2 separate regions of the Homo sapiens genome follow, and region 2 is linked to region 1. Evidence: fine-mapped expression QTL. Tissue or cell type: testis. Region 1 holds a variant in brackets; the other region holds the start of a gene. All regions are shown on one strand. Distances are between the middles of the regions.

Region 1 (8,102 bases):
GCAAGAGGGAGGGTCTGCGGCCTCGGCAGAGACAGCCGGATGCACTGAGACCCTGGCCTGGGGCAGGCAGGGGCTCCCTCAGGGGGCTCAGAAGGGGTCAATGCTGCAGACCACAGGCCGGCCCAGCCTCAGGCACGGTCCACCTGGCACAGCACACTTCACAGTGTTGAATATACTGTTGTATTTGTTTCCTGAGGTAACAAAGTCCCACAAACTCGGTGGCTTAAAAGAAAGACATTTATGCTCTCCCAGTCCTGGAGGCCAAAAGTCTGAGATCAGTATCCCTGGGCCGAAATCAAGGGGTCGGCAAGGCTGAGCTCCCTCCGGGGAATTAGGGGACGAGCCCTCACTGCCTCTTCCAGCCTCCAGTTCCTTGGCTCACGCCCACATCACTCCCGTCTCCACCTCCATCTTCACTTCATCTTAGTGTAACCTCCCTCCATCTCCCTCTTACATATGGACACTTCCCATTGGATTTCGGGCCTATGACTAGTCCTGAAAGATCTCATCTTGAGACCTTCAACTTGATCATATCTGCAGAGACTCTATTTCCAAATAAGGTCACCTTCACGGGCTGTTTTTCTTTTAGGGCGGTGGGGGTGGGGGGGGGGGGATTTTTCAGCTGACCACAATTGTCAACATTAAAAAATCAAGATATTGTAGGGGTCCCACCTAGATATTGAGGAGGTGGACAACAGGAGGACTGGGTCTCTCCTTCATCCCTCAGCTGCCAGGATGGAGGGTTTGGGGGGGGTCATTTCTTACACAGCTCCCAGTAGGAGATGCTGTGTAGCCTTGGGAGTGTCACTTAGCTACCTCTGGGCTTCCTTGTCTGTTGCTGGGACCGTGTATCAGCTAGTTGCTGAGTAACAAACACAAACACGATCTCAGCAGCACAGAGTCAGCATTTGGTTGGCTGGTCCAGGCCAGGCCGCTGGGGCAGCTGAGCTCTGCCCCCCACTCCCTCATCCTCCCCCTGACCAGCAGGCTAGCCACCCTCACTGATGGCAGCAACACAGGACAGCAGCCTGGTCACCGCAGCTCTCAGTTCAGAGCACCACATGCCCCGTGAACATCCCCTCAGTCAAAGCAAGTCACATGGCTGAACCCACAGTCAAGGGGCAGGGAATTAGACTCCACCCCCTTAGTGGGGGAGCTTCAGAGGCACAGGGCAAGCGTGGTTGGCAGGGGTGAAGGATGGGGCCAGTGATGCCAGGGGCCCACAGGGGTGCATGGGGGTCAGAACCCATCATTCACTCCCCAAGCACAAGCCCAGGGCCAGCTGGCCCACAGGTCCCCCTGGTGCCCAGCATCCCCCCGTCCCCCTCCCATGGGGTGGGGCTCGCATCCAATGCCTGGTTCCAAGTGTCCTCCTCATCTTACCTGCATGGTGACCATCCAGGACGCTCTCCCTGAGCCCGCTGCTTACTGAGTGCCACGGAGGCCTGCAGGGGGAGTGGGCACACACAGGAGAGACGCATGATTTGCAATCTCGTTAATGAGCCGTAGCACAATCACAGACCTGCCCTGACAAGGAGCTGCACTCGTGGTAACATAAAACTGTCAGCCAGCTGGGCGCGGTGGTTCACGCCTGTAATCCCAGTACTTTGGGAGGCTGAGGCGGGAGGATCACCCGAGGTCGGGAGTTTGAGACTGGCCTGGCCATCGTGGCGAAACCCCGTCTCTACTAAAAATACAAAAATCAGCCAGGTGGTGGTGCATGCCTGTAATACCAGGTACTCAGGAGGCTGAGGCAGGAGAATTGCTTGAACCCAGGAGGCAGAGTTTGCAGCAAGTCAAGATCATGCCACTGCACTCCAGCCTGGTGACAGAGCGAGACTCTGTCTCAAAAAAAACAAATTTTTTTAATAAAAAAAAAACCTGTCAGCCAACGAAGCTCATTACAAGCTGCTCCTCAGACTTCCTGTCAGCTGGGACTGCATCCGCCTGTTCAGCCCTTCCAGGCCTGGAGCTGGAGCCCAGGAGGGAGGCCAAGGGGTCCCACTGCAGCTGGGGTGCTGACTGTTAGCTACCAGCCCTTCCGTGGGCCTGTCAGGTTCAGTCTCGGATGCTGTGGGGCCCTGGGACCCCTCATGGGAAGCTGACTTGGACCGTTCAAGAGCCCTATCTAGCCCTCAGCAGGACAAGATCCTCTCAGCAACATCCCCAACACACACTCAACCAGACAGCCTGCAAAGAGCCAGTTCTGTATTTGGACAGCTCGGCTCCCCATGGTACCCTTGTACTCCATGGTAAACCAAAACAAGCTTCTTTGTAACTTCCACCTACTAAAACCATTCCATTACCACCAACTAAGACGGATTCTCCACCTGCCCATCCCAAACCTACCCCCAGGTGTCCCGTGTCTCCTTGTCTCCTGCATCTGCTGCCCACGTGCAGGCTGAGTGTGAAATAACAAAGGACATCCTCCTGGTGGCGCGGGGCAGAGAGCCAACTCACAGAGGGGAGGACATCCACGCTGGCCACGAGCCAGCTCCCCACAATGACCAGCCCAGCCACCCCGATGGTGGGGGAGAATGGGTCCTCCCTCTGCGATCTGAGAGTTCCACTCAGTAGCCCTCAAACCCTACTCCACACACACCTGTTCGCCCTGAATCTAATGTGCTCACTTTGAGCTATCTTCCTGTATGCCTTTTCCCAGGCTGATACCCTCTTTTCTTTGCTTTTGCAAACTAGCTGAATTTCTTAGCCAGAGCCATCAGGCAAGAGAAAGAAATAAAGGACATTCAAATTGGAAAAGAGGAATTCAAACTACCTGTTTGCCAATGGTATGATCTTATACCTAGAAAGCCCTAAAGACTCCTCCAAAAGACTCCTAGATTCGATAAATGAATTCAGTAAAGCCTCGGTCACAACATCAATGTAGCACTGCTATACACCAACGATGACCAAGCTGAGAATCAAATCAAGAACTCAATCCCTTTTACAATAGCTGCAAAAAAATAAAATACCTAGGAATATATGTACCCAAGGGGGTGAAAGATCTCTACAAGGAGAACTACAAACACTGCTGAAGGAAATCACAGATGACACAAATGGAAATATATCCCATGCTCACTTATTGGAAGAATCAATATTGTGAAAATGACCAAACTGCCCAAAGCAATCTACAGATTCAGTGCAATTCCTATCAAAATACCAACATTCCTTTTTCACAGAATTAGAAAAACAATGCTAAAATTCATTTGGAACCAAAAAAGAGCCTCAATAGGCAAAGCAATCTTAAGCAAAAAGAACAAATCTGGAGGCATCACATTACCTGACTTCCAACTATACTACAGGGCTATAGTTACCAAACAGCATGATACTGGTGCAAAAGTAGATAACAGACCAATAGAACAGAATAGAGAATGAAGAAATAAAGCCAAATCCTTACGACCAACTGATCTTTGATAAAGCAAACAAAACCGTATTCAATAGATGCTAGGAAAAACTGGTGAGCCACGTGTAGAAGAATGAAACTGGATACCTATCTTTCAGCATATACAAAAATCAACTCAAATGAATTAAAGACTTTAATCTAAGATCTGAAACCATAAAAATTCTAGAAGAAAACCTAGGCAAAACTCTTCTGGACATCAGCCTTGGCAAAGAATTTATGACCAAGACCCCAAAAGCAAATGCAACAAAACCAAATATAAATAAGTGGGACCTAATTAAACTAAAAACCTTCTGCACTGCAAAAGAAAGAATCATTAGAGTAAACAGAACACCCGCAGAATGGGAGAAAATGTTTGCAAACTATGCATTTGATAAAGAACTAATAATCAGAATCTGCAAGGAACTCAAATCAGCAAGAAAAGAAAAACAATCTCATTAAAAAGTGGGCAAATGACACGAATAGACATTTCTCAAAAGAAGATAAACAAATGGCCAAGAAACACATGAAAAATGCTTGACATCACTAATCATTAGGGAAATGCAAATTAAAACCACAATGAGATACCACCTTATTCCAGCCAGAATGGCCATTATTAATGTTGCGGTAAACTGAGGAACGGAGAGACCACTATGGAGTACAGGAGGATTGTTGTTTATTTTAGGTACGTACCGGCTCAGAGGACTCACATCCAAAAAGCTGAGCATTGAACAAAGACTGAGCAGGGTTTTTATAAGCGGACTTACAAGAGTAAAACAAAGCAGTTAATCGTACAGTGACAGGTCACGTAATCTATAGCGTAACTGTTGACTTAGCATAACTTGTGGCCTTGCATAGCTAGTGACCTCACAGCTGTGTCAAAAGAAAAACAAGAACTAGCTAAATACAGACATTTGTAAAACATAATCATGCTTAAGAAGCCTGGGAAAGGAGTAACAGTAAAAGAATTTGTCTTTCTTTTT[T/TC]CCCTCAACCTTGCTCTGGAGTGGGGGTGTCTGGAGCCCATTCCTTTGGCGGTGGCTACTCAAACAGTGTTATCTTATAACTGTCCTTGAAGTGAGCCTGCTGCACTTTCCCCTGCTAGGCAGAGGAAAACTTGTTCTTTTCTTTTTAACCTTTGCCTTGCCTGTTACTTTTCTTAGAGTGAATGAATGCATATTTATTTTTAAATTTCTGCCTCACTAAAAAGTCAAAAAACAATAGATGTTGGTGTGGAGGTGGTGAAAGGGAATGCTTACACACTGCTGGCAGGAATGTAAACTAATACAACCTCTATAGAAAACAGTATGGAGATTTCTCAAAGAACTAAAAGTAGATTAGCCATTCGACCCAGCAATCCCTCTACTGGGCATCCACCCAAAGGAAAGGAAGTCATTACCTCAAAAAGACACCTGCACATGTGTGTTTATCACAGCACAATTCACAACTGCAAAGACATGGAACCAACCCAAGTGCCTATCAGCTGATGAGCAGATAAAGAAAGTGTGAGATAGATTTAGATAGATAGATAGATAGATAGATAGATGGATGGATGGAAGGATGGACGGACGGATGGTCGGACAGACAGATAATGAAATACACACATATATATGTCATGAAATACAACTCAGTCATAAAAAGAATGAAATAATGCATTTTGTAGCAACTTGGATGGAACTGCAGACCATTATTCTAAGTGATGCAACTCAGGAATAGAAAACCAAATACTGTATGTTCTCACTTATAAGCGGGAGCTAAGCTGTGGGTACACAAAGGCATGCAGAGTGGTATAATGAACACTGGAGAATCAAAGAGGAGGAGGGAGGGATGGGGATGAGGGACAAAAAACTACCTATTGGGAGGCCGGGTGTGATGGCTCACCCCTGTAATCCAAGCACTTTGGGAGGCTGAGGCAGGCGGATCACCTGAGGTCAGGAGTTGAAGACAAGCCTGACCAACATGGAGAAACCCATCTCTACTAAAAATACAAAATTAGCCGGGTGTGGTGGCGCACGCCTGTAATCCCAGCTGCTCAGTAGGCTGAAGCGGGAGAATCACTTGAACCTGGGAGGCAGAGGTTGCGGTGAGCCAAGATCATGCCATTGCACTCCAGCCTGGGCAACAAGAGCGAATCTCTGTCTCAAAAAAAAAAAAAAAAACTACCTATTGGGTACAATGTACACTACTCAGGTGATGGGTGCACTAAAATCTCAGACTTCACCACTACACAATTCATCCATGGAACCAAAAACCACCTGTGCAAAGCTATTGAAATAAAATAAAAACTAGAGCTGGGCACAGTGGCTCACACCTGTAACCTCAGCACTTTGGGAGGCCAAGGCGGGGGATCGCTTGAGCCTAGCAGTTCAAGACCAGCCTGGGAAACATAGCAAGACCCCATCTCTACTAAAAAAAAAAATTGTTTAAAATATCCTAGTGTAGTGACGTGCGTCTGTGGTCCCAGCTACTTGGGAAGTTGAGGCATGCAGATCACTTGAGCCCAGGAGGCCAAGGCTGCTGTGAGCTGTGATCACACATCTGCACTCCAGCCTGGATGACAGAGCAAGACCCCGTCTCAGAAAACAACAACAAAACTCTCTGAGGTATAATTTACATACAACAAAATTCACCAATTTTAAATATAATTTGATGAGTTCTGACAAATGTACACAGTTGTGTAACCACCAGCACGATGATTACGTGGAACATTCCCATCACACCAAAACTAGTTGTGTAACCACCAGCACGATGATTACGTGGAACATTCCCATCACACCAAAACTTTCCCTCCCTGGGCCTCTTTACACTCAATCCCCTCCTCCACCCTCGCCCTGGGCTCCTGTATTCTATTCGCTATTCCTGTAGTTTTGACTTTCATATAAATGAAACCACCCAGGATGCAGCATTTTGAGTCTGTCCTCTATCACCAAACATAATGCTTTTGAGAGTTATCGTTGCTGCACCCTGGGGTAGCTCATTCTGTTTTTCTAGCTGAAAAACTTTCCTTATGTGGGTGTACTACAATTTATTTTATCCATTCACCTGTTGAAGGGTATTTGGCTTGTCTCCCGTTCACGGCTATTATGAATAAAGCCGCTATGAATGTCGAAGTCAAGTTCTTTACATGGACAGAGGCCTTCTCCTGGATGGCCACCTGGGGTGGAACTGCTGGATCACGTGGTGACTGAGGTGTAACTTTTCAAGAAACTGCCAGGCTGATTTCTAAAATGTCTGTAGCATGTTACACTCCCCCATGCAGGGTCTGGGGGTTCCAGCGAATCTACACCCTTCCCTGCGCTGGCATGGTCCGTCCTGTACATTCCAGCCTTTCCAGGAGGAGCGCAGCAGTGTCCCACTGTGGTTCAAATTTGTGTTTCCTTGATGACGAATGACGCTGAGCATCTTTGTGTGTGCTCATTTGCCATCTGTACTTCTTCTTTGGGGAAGTCTGTTCCAATCCCTTGTCTCACAGGAATGTTCGTCTCTATATTTGGCTACATAGTTGCCATTTCTGGTGCTATTTCTTTACTGTTGTGTCCGTTTGATATGACTTTCCTTCTGCTTACAGAGCTTACTTTAACCTTACTTAATATGTTGAGGATGCTGAGGCAGGAGAATAGGGAATTGGGGTAACCAAGGGTTAAGGCAGAAGCAAAAGAGCAGCAGGCTCCGCCAGCTCCAGGCAAGACTGGGCGGCACACAGGCCGCATCCCCACCCCTGTGATGACAAGACAGAAGCCTCCACGTCAGCCTCTGATTGGCCGCAGATCAATCCTTCATAGGGTGTAACCAATGGGAGGCTTCTAAAGGGCACCTAGGGGTGTTACCAAATCTTTTAGCTTTATAAAAACCTGGGGAGCATTGCAATGGGGGGGATAGTGTCTTGAGCCACTTGCTCGAGTCCGCTCCCACTCTGCGGAATGTACTTCCGCCTCAATGTAGCTGTGCCTTCGACTCAGCAAAACAGAAATAATATTCCAAATACGCACGATGGTAAGAACCAACAGGAACCCTCATATCCTGCTACTGCAGCCGCACCTATGATTGGTTATCCCGGGCCAAAAAGACATTTTCAGTAAGACTTTAGAAGTATATGTAAATGTCTGTTTTTCACAATTGCTCCATATATTGTGTGTTTTCAGACAAGACAGTTATTTAAGAAACGGGAATTGCAGAAATGGCTGTAGTGCAGCGGTAATATTTAAGTCGACTAGTTATCCACGTTCCTGAAACAATTTCTAAGGTTTTTTTTTTGTAGTAGAAAATGTAGGCAGTGTTTTCACAAAAGTAAATGTACAGTGATTTGAAATACAATAAATGAAGGCAATGCATGGCGTTCCAGTAAACATTTTAAAAATAAATAAATAAAAATCTGTGCTTTCGTTACTCCTTTCTTTCGTTGCTTGCCTTTCATTGCTTCGTTCTTTTGTTGCTTTGTTTGTGCATTTTGTTCAATTCTTTGTTCAACACACCAAGAACCTGGACAACCCACAGTCAAGACGTTCCACCCGGTAACAATGGGACATCACTTTAACATTGCCGGGACACAGGTCTGATGGCGATGAACTCTTTCAATTTTTGTGTTTCTGAAAAACTAATTTCACCTTTTCTAAAGAAAAAAATGTTTTCATTGGGTAAAGAATTTTAAATTGGCTGGGCGCGGTGGCTCTCGCCTATAATCCCAGCACTCTGGGAGGCCGAGGCAGGTGGATCACCTGAGGTCAGG
Region 2 (8,102 bases), 700 kb before region 1:
GCCAGGACGCATCTCCCTTCTCCAGCAGATCCGATACCTTTGATTGTTGCATGGTTTGACTGTTTTGTTTTGAATTTTTTTCCCCTTGTGAATTGCATCTCCTGCTCCATGGAAATTTCCAAAGATTCAAAGACCCCCAAGTCCCAGGGGAGTGAGAGAAGCAGCCTCACCTGGTTCTTCCTCAGAACCCAGAGTGCATGGTGTGCTTCTTTGGAGCACAGTCATGACTAAGGCTGTAAGTCTGAACTCAGCCAGCCCTGGGTTCCAGGTCAAGCTCCTCCCCTCTTTTCATGCCTCAGTGTCTTCATCTGTATAATGGGGGAGTGCAGGAAGTACCCCAGGGTACAGTGCAGCCAGTGGGGGTCATCGTTGGTATCATTGCTTTATGGGTCCACCCCCTGGGGGCTCCTAGAGGGTTAGAGCCTGGGCCACATGTGGAGAGGGGAACACCCTGTTCCCCCACCCTCAAGGCTCTCGGAGTGGCCAGAGGGCGGACACACAGAAAGGAGCTCCACCACACTGTGAGGAGAGAGGTGTCCACCAAGCCCTGCAGCAGCTAAAGCCAACACAGTGCTCCGAGAGAAAGGAGCTCCGGAGGGAGCAGCAGAGGCACAGGCACAGAGCCTGGATGGGGGCGTGTGCTTCTGGATGGACTAGAGGGTCAGGATTCTGCTGGTGGCGAGTGGGCCAGGCTGAGCATGAGACTGGAAAAGGAAAGAAGACAGCCCTAGGTTGGAAGGGGACATTTGCATCTTTCCCCCTGGGATTTCTGCTTCCAAGGGATGCACCTCACAGCCATGCCCCCAGGTCCTAAGTCACGCTGCCTGGAGTAGAATCTCAGCCCACCCCGTGCCGGCGGGTGACCCAGGCCAGGCTGCTCACATACCCAAGTCTGTCCTGTCTGTGGACCATGGGCATCACCACCTCCGTCCTATGTGAGGATCGCATGGGATCATGACTGAAAACCTTCGACACAGTACCTGCCACACAGTACATAGGGATCCCTGTTCATGGAGAAAGATAGATTTTGAAAAACCTACAACAATAACTCTATTCCTTTCTTTATTCCCAGTGTAGCTTCACCTCAGCGGGTGAGCGTTATTGGAATGGAAGGCAGGGAGCGATCTGTACTGGTCTCTCTGCTGCCTGCTCGCCCCTCTCAATCTCTCCTTTGCTTTTTGCTTTAAGATCGCTCTTCTCTATTGCATGCAGGGAGTTTTCTTGAGCTGGGTAGCAGGCTGATTCCATTCATTTCTACAGTGCCTTGAATATCTTCAATCGCCCACAAAGACAATGTTTTATTCTACGAACACACCTTTTGCCAACATCTCACTGCTTTCTGTACAAAACAGCCTTTTTGTCGAACATTGAAGTGTCTACAATAATAACTATCAATAGGGAAGGAAACAAATTAACATCCAACGAATATAGGGAAATGTGGCCCTGATACAAGCACTTGGTTTTTGCTTCTAAAGAGGAACCCCTTCCCAGACTCACCTCATCGAGAGGGAGACAGAGAAGTCTATCAAGCTTAGCAAACATCTGTAGTCCAATTACTGTCAACAGTTTACAGGTGTTGAGAGCAAACAGTCACTTATACACTACCTCCCAAATGCATTCTCTTAATCTCTCTTAGAAACAAACGCACACATTTTTCTAGGGCTCTTTATCCAAAGTGCAGAGAGACTAGCTCCTCCTCCAGGCCAGCTGTGGTCTTCCCTGCACTGGGTGGACCAAAGGCAGGCCACAGTCCCACTGGCCAATGTGCCAAACACTGTGCCAGGGTTTCTCCAGCTACCCCAGGCAGAGGCCCAGGCTCCACCCCTGGAGGTCCAGGTTCTGGAAATCCAGGGTGGGGCATAGGAGAGAGCATTTTTCTGATGCTTCCAGCTGCTGCTCTGTTACGTGGGACATACTGTCTGTGGGACAGGCCGTGATTCTCAAATGCTAGTGGCATGAGCATGGACTGGAGAGATTGTTACAAGGTCAGCTTCCAGGCCCCACTTGCAAAAGCTCCAAGTCCATGGATTTCAGGTGGAGCCTAGGAACTGGCATTTTTCATGAGTTTCTCTGTGATTTTGTTGCAGATGATTGCAGACCAGAGGTGGGCGTGGCGGGGAATCCCATCAGCATTCAGAATCAATGTAGCAGGTCTGGGGTAAGGCCTGAGTTTCTGCATTTTTAACAAGCTCCTGGGGGATCTTGATGCTGCTGGTCTGGGGACCACACTCAGAGTGACAGGCTGAAGACCATTCTTTGGAGGCACTGCTTTGTATTTTAGGTCATATTTTTCTTTTCTGTCTCAGCAATCTTTGCTGCTGCATTCAGAGTAAGTCTGATAAACCAATGCTCTCTACTGGACTCCTGTCAGTTACTGCAGTGTTTCTGAAACTATGTATTTCGGAAAATGCGAGTTCCCGTAAGACATTACAGCTGTGTAAGAAGGTTTCTTTGAACAAAGTTGGGGCCATGCTGCGTGTGCCAGGGTCCCAGCTCTGGGTGAGAATGCTGGCACTGCAGCTTTCCCCGTGCCTGCCCTCTGCACCCTCCTCTGCCTGACTGTATAGTGGAGTTAGAAGGACTCCAAGAGCAACTTTACATAAAGCTCCTACACATGTCCCTGGCACATAGCTAGCACCTTGTAAGGACAGGCTATTGTCAAACTCTACCCTTTCTGGAAATCACGCTGCAGTAGACTCAAGATTCATTCAGTAGTAGAGGGAGATGTGCTTAACACAGTGTTTGGAGTTCAGGACCCACCTGCTCCTGGACCCCAGTCTCCCTGCCACACACTCATACCTTTTCTTTTTCAAATTGGCGCGCTCCTCAGCGCTTCAACAGTTTCGCAGAGCACGTTGGAGCAAATGCGGGGGTCTGTGATGCCTCTCCAAAGAAATAACTCGCATAATGCTCAGGCCTCCTGCAGACAAAGGTGTATCCCCAGCGACAGATATTTTAAGAAAATAGACCAGGGACACAAGACAAGAGAGCTGTCTTGGTGTCTAAAGCAGTCTTGGACAGCTTCTGATGTCGCTCGAGCAGTGGTGAAGCACCTTGAATAAGGAGGAAAGCAGAGGGGGCGTCTTCCCAAAGGACGGGCACATGGCCGAGGAATGGAATTCTCTGTCCATGAGGATTTTGGATGGATCTGTTCATGAAACCTCACTGGCTACGCAGGACCTTCGAGTGAGTCTAAACCTCCAGCCATGTCAACTGGTAACCTCTCCTTCTTCGGCTAGGTGGGGAGTGGGACAAGGCCATAACTGATAGGAGTCCAGGCTGGGGCAGATTTTGTGTCTCCTGACTAGTTCCATAGTTAAGTTGCAAAACCGAATCTCGCCTTGTGCTCTCGGATGTAGTGCTTACTCTGGTCCTCTGGGGTTATCTAAAATCTGGTTTCCTTAAGCGTAAGGCAGAGCTCTAACCGGGAGACCACCCTGCCCCCAAGGGTGGGGGTTCTGGGAGGGAGAGAGGGAAGCGGCTGCTCTGTAGCTTTCTCTACTGGCTTGCCCAAGTGGACTCTGATCTTGGAGCTCAACAGTGTCACTCAATCTTCCACCCTCTCCTTTGCAACCTATTTCTTAAACCAGAACTAATGTATTCTGGACACAGAGTCCCTGAAACCCCAGACAAAGAAAATTCGATGTATCTGAACAAACAAAACCGCGTTTCTTTAAATCTCCAAGCCAAAAGGAAAAGTGCAGAAACATTTACTCACTGTCCGACCTGTACATATATTTTACCTGATAACCCTTAAAGAAGTGCCCCCCAGTTCAGCCATCACCCATGCAGGGCAAAGGGAGCTGGAGCTGGCCCAGCCTGTCGGCGCAGACACTCCTGACAGCTCCTGTCTGGGCACTTCTTTCTTTCTTGGAGCTTCTAATTTCTTTCTTGGCTTCTGAGGCCTAACAGGGTGTTTTGATGCACACACAGGAATTACTACCGTCCCCAATCCTAGGGTACATCCCTAGCCCAGGCCAGGGCTTTGAGTTTTCCTAGGAGCGGGAGGGTCTGCAAAGCCCCACAGGCTGAAATCTCAGCGTGGCCCTCTGCTCATCTGCTCCAGGTGGAAACTCTCACCCCTGAGCTGCCCGACCTGGGTTCAAGCCCGGGTCAGGGGAGTTAGCAAGGAGACACCTGAAAAATAAAAGGACAGAATGGAAGTGCACACTCCCACCGCGGGCCCGGGCGGGAAGTCGGACTAAGACCGCGGCGGGACCGCCCCATCCAGAAAGGGTGCCCCGGGTGTGGGGGCGGAAACCCCAGCGCTGTCTTCAGTCTCCACACCCGCGCCTTTTTCCCCTGGAAAACGAGCGTCCTTGGCCTCTTCGGCCGCAACCGGGCGGCTCCAGACGTCCAGGAGGGCAGAGGCTGGGCTGGTGCGGCGCGGGGGGCGCGGGCGCGGGCTCTGCGCCTTTAAGGCCCGCGTCGGCAGAGCGAGCGCAGGGGCCGGGCGGCGGGGCGGGGCCTCGGCGGGGCGGCCGCGGCTTCACCTGCAGCTCCGAGCGCGCGGAACAGAGGCGCGGGCGGCTGCGAGGCCGGCGGACGCACCGGCCCGAGGGAACGCGCCGCCGGCCGGACTTGGCCTGGCTCCCGGAGCCGGGGCGGCGAGCGCGGCGGGCGCAGCGGGGCTGGAGGCTCCGGGCAGGCGCGGGGGAGCGGCGGCGGCGGCGGCGATCGGAGCGGCGGCGGTGGTCTCGGCGGCGGCGGCGGCGGCGGCGGCAGGGAGCGGGCTCCCGGTGCCGGGCACCGGGCGGGCGGCGGGGAAGATGACCGCGGGCGCCGGCGTGCTCCTTCTGCTGCTCTCGCTCTCCGGCGCGCTCCGGGTAAGTTGCCGCCTCCCGCCCCCGCCGTTCGGAAGCCCCGGGCAGCGGGAGGTCGTCCCCGGATCCCGCGGGGCGCTCACACACCCGGCGGGGCTCTCCCGGGCTCCCCCGCCGCGCTCCCCGCTGCATCCAGCCCGGCGCCCGCGCTCGGCGAAGCTGCCTGCGGTCGGCAGGAGCGGGAAGCCGCCTGGGCAGCGGGGAGCGGCGGAGCAGGGTGGGAGTGGGGCTCGGTGGAGGACCCGGGGAGCTCCGCCTGCACCGGACCCGCCGAGCCTCCCTCGAACGCCCAAAGCCCGTAGCCGCTACCCGGAGCTCGGCTTGCCTGCATGGGGCAGGCTTCCACTGGCGGAGCCGGCGCGCCCTCCATCGCCCGGGAGCCGCGCGCCGCGGGAGTTGCCGAGCCCAGCCCCGGCCGTGGCTGAAGGCGTGGGGCGCCCGGCGGCTGCGGGCCAGGGATCCGCGAGTGCGGGGCGCCTGCCCGACCTCTCCTGCCCAAGGCCTGGGGGTCCGTCTAGCGGCGCCGCTCAGTTCTGTGGGTGCCGGCAGGACCCGCGCTGCGGGTGGGCGGCGGGGTAGGACTGCGGGGCACTCTCACCCCCGAGCCCTCGGCGGGGCTGGAGCCTGCGTGTCCGGCGGGGCCCCGGGGGCTGGGAGCTGGGCCGGGCTTGGGCCGGGAAGCCGGACGCCGGGCGGGCGCGGCGCGGGAGGGCGCCCCGGGAGGGCGAGCGGGTCTCCCGCTGCCTCTGCAGAGCCCCGCGGGCCGGATTGCCAGCTTTGCTCTGCGCCTGGCGAGGTGCGCGGCCCGCGGGGGCAGAGAGCGCGGCGGCTCCGGGGGCGCCCCTGGGCGGAGGCGGAGGGGCGGCGGGAGTTGCAGGAACCCCCTCTCGTGGCCGATCGGCCTCGCTGCCTTCTCCCGGGCAGCGCTGTTGTAACCTCGGAAATAAACAAGTGCCAGCGGCGGGAGGCCCGCTCCGAGGCCGCGGGGCGCTGGGGGACGCGCTGGGCACACGCTTCGGGCGGGCGGAAACTTTCCTGGGCGAGTTGAGCCTCCCACCGGGCTGCGGGTGCGATTTGGAGCTTCGTGGCCGATGAAGAAAGCCGCGGTTTAGAGCTTTTCGTAAGGAATGACCCTGCGTCCCGCTCTCCTCCCTCGGTGCTGGGGGTAGAGGGGCGCCCTCCGCGGTGCCGGCGTCGGGAAGCCTGGAGCTCCGGGCTGGGGGCGGCCTCCGGAGTCGAAGCATGGGCGGGCGACGGCAGCGCGCGGAGCTGGAGGAGGCGGCGGGCGGGAGGCGCCACTGCCCGGTGCGGGCTGCACCCGAGGCTTCCTGCGCTCGCCGGGGAGCCAAGCACCGCTGTGCTCCTGCTCCTTCAGCGGGGCTGGCTTCCCGCTTGCACACACTGCCTCTCCCTCCACCACCTCCTCCTGCCTGTCACGCCCCCTCCCAGAAGCTTGGTCGGAGGGCCCTGTCGTCCACCCCATCCTTCCCTGGCCCTGTGCCATGGGCTCTAGACTTCCCCACTGAGCAGGAAAGGCGAGCGAGCTCCGGAGGACAGGAGGAGACCCCCTTTCCGGTCAGTTAGGGGAGCCGTCTCCCTGCCTGGGCTGGAGATGGGGGCTCCGAGGGTGAAAATGCGGGCTGAAGACTAGAAGGTGGAAGCGCCCCCACTGCCTCCTCACCCCAGCCACCGGCAGCCTCCCGCAGAGCTGCCTTCTTCGACCGGCTCCGGACCTAGTCCTAGAGAATCTTCTTCCTTTCTCTCCTCTTTCTCCTCCCTCCCGGTGACCTGGAGAGGAGACAAGAAGCTGCCTCCTCCGCCTTACCAAGAGCGCAGAGCGGTGGGCCTAAAGCGCGAATGGTCTGAGCAGAGCCGCCCACACTTTGGCCTCCCTGCCCTTAGTGGCTTCGGGAGCAGCGGCTGAAGTCTTCTGTCTCTGCCTTTTGGTCATTTCTCAGGCGTCTCCTCTGCCAATAAGGCCCTGGCCGGCCTGGCTTCCCCAACAGTCCGTCCTTCACTCCCTGCCTGCTGTGTGTGGGGCTGGGGAAGGATGCTCCTGGTCTGTAGCCTGGAGAGTGCTCCCTAAAGTCCCCAGAGAGCAGAGGAGCAGACGGGGTATCGCGTCTGGGTGGAGACGGTGGCCTGCCAGCCTTTCTCTCTTAGCCAGAGACCTTTTACACAGCAGGCCCTGGATGAATGTTGGTTGGATTAAATTTCTGTGAACTTATTGTTTTACACTCTCCCCTTTGTGTTCTCAGGCCCATAATGAGGATCTTACAACTAGAGAGACCTGCAAGGCTGGGTTCTCTGAAGATGATTACACGGCATTAATCTCCCAAAATATTCTAGAAGGGGAAAAGCTACTTCAAGGTAAGGCGGGGTGTGGAGGGGTGGGAGTGAATTGCTGCCATGCTTTTCCTTGGGGAAACATGTAGATGGGAGAGGCAAGGCTTGCCTCATCTTTGTGCTCTCTGTGAAATGATGGTGGTGAAGTCCACGAGGTGCAAATTGGTTGACCTGAAAGGCGTTTTGCATAACAGGTGAATGATTCAGAACCCCGGTCATTTTTGAGTGAAGTGAATCATTTCCTGGGCAGCAAACTGTAATTCGGATGTAACATCACCCAAATAGTGTGCAGAGAGAGACCTTCTTACCAAGTATTTTTATGCATGAAGTTCTGGATACTTAAATTATCCCTGCTTTGAAATGTATGATAAAGCAGACGATGTTGTTGGAAATGCGGTAAATAAGCCCACAGACGGTCTGTTCACAAATGTGGCATTCATTTTCATTACTGCCCCACTGACAACACGAAAACACACATGCAGGAGGGAACTACCAATTAGCTTTATCGTAATTGCAGGATTATATCCACACTTGTGATGGGAAAGTCAGAGACAGCTTCAAAACTCAGATGACAGTAGATCATCCTGCTTATTGGTCTGTTTCCCTTTCAAGACAAACTAATTAGACTTTATATTTGCATAGGAGGGGACATAAATCAGTTCTGTGCCATGAGCACCTTGGCTGTGAGCCTTTCCTCTCTGCATCAGTTTCCTGGAAGTGGCAGCCTTTGAATTGATTTCAAAGCGATAGAGGAAGAGGACTTTTGATAAAGTATCGAAGCTAAATTTCCACATTCAGGACTGTTGACTGCCCTACCGGTTTTGTGTCCCAGGGAATGTAAACTTTTCCCTCCAGAACTGACAGCGGTTCCTGTGTATGTGTGTGTGTGCATGCATGTGCGTGAACTCGCTCACGCTTATAGTGAAGTGATTT

Alleles and levels. Positions count from the first base shown, and alleles are read on the strand shown. Sizes are in standard deviations (SD) of each study's normalised expression.
As copies of TC replace T in region 1, the expression in testis of the gene that starts at base 4,517 in region 2 goes up (moderate effect, 0.54 SD a copy in GTEx).

Evidence for each region. PIP is the estimated chance that this variant, and not a neighbour inherited with it, causes the effect.
Region 2: it holds the start of CDH4, and the variant in region 1 is fine-mapped to the expression of CDH4 in testis (GTEx, PIP above 0.99).

The regions. Positions count from the first base shown.
Region 1 is chr20:61,952,384-61,960,485 of GRCh38, forward strand. It overlaps MIR1257 (microRNA 1257), which reads right to left and starts at 1,279; the gene lies at 1,163-1,279. RefSeq lists enhancers at 1-477, 1,288-1,787. The variant T/TC (reference allele first, on the strand shown) is at 4,363.
Region 2 is chr20:61,247,745-61,255,846 of GRCh38, forward strand. It overlaps CDH4 (cadherin 4), which reads left to right and starts at 4,517. Exons shown (of 16, transcript NM_001794.5): 1 at 4,517-4,826; 2 at 7,082-7,193. The coding sequence starts at 4,770. RefSeq lists an enhancer at 6,621-7,313.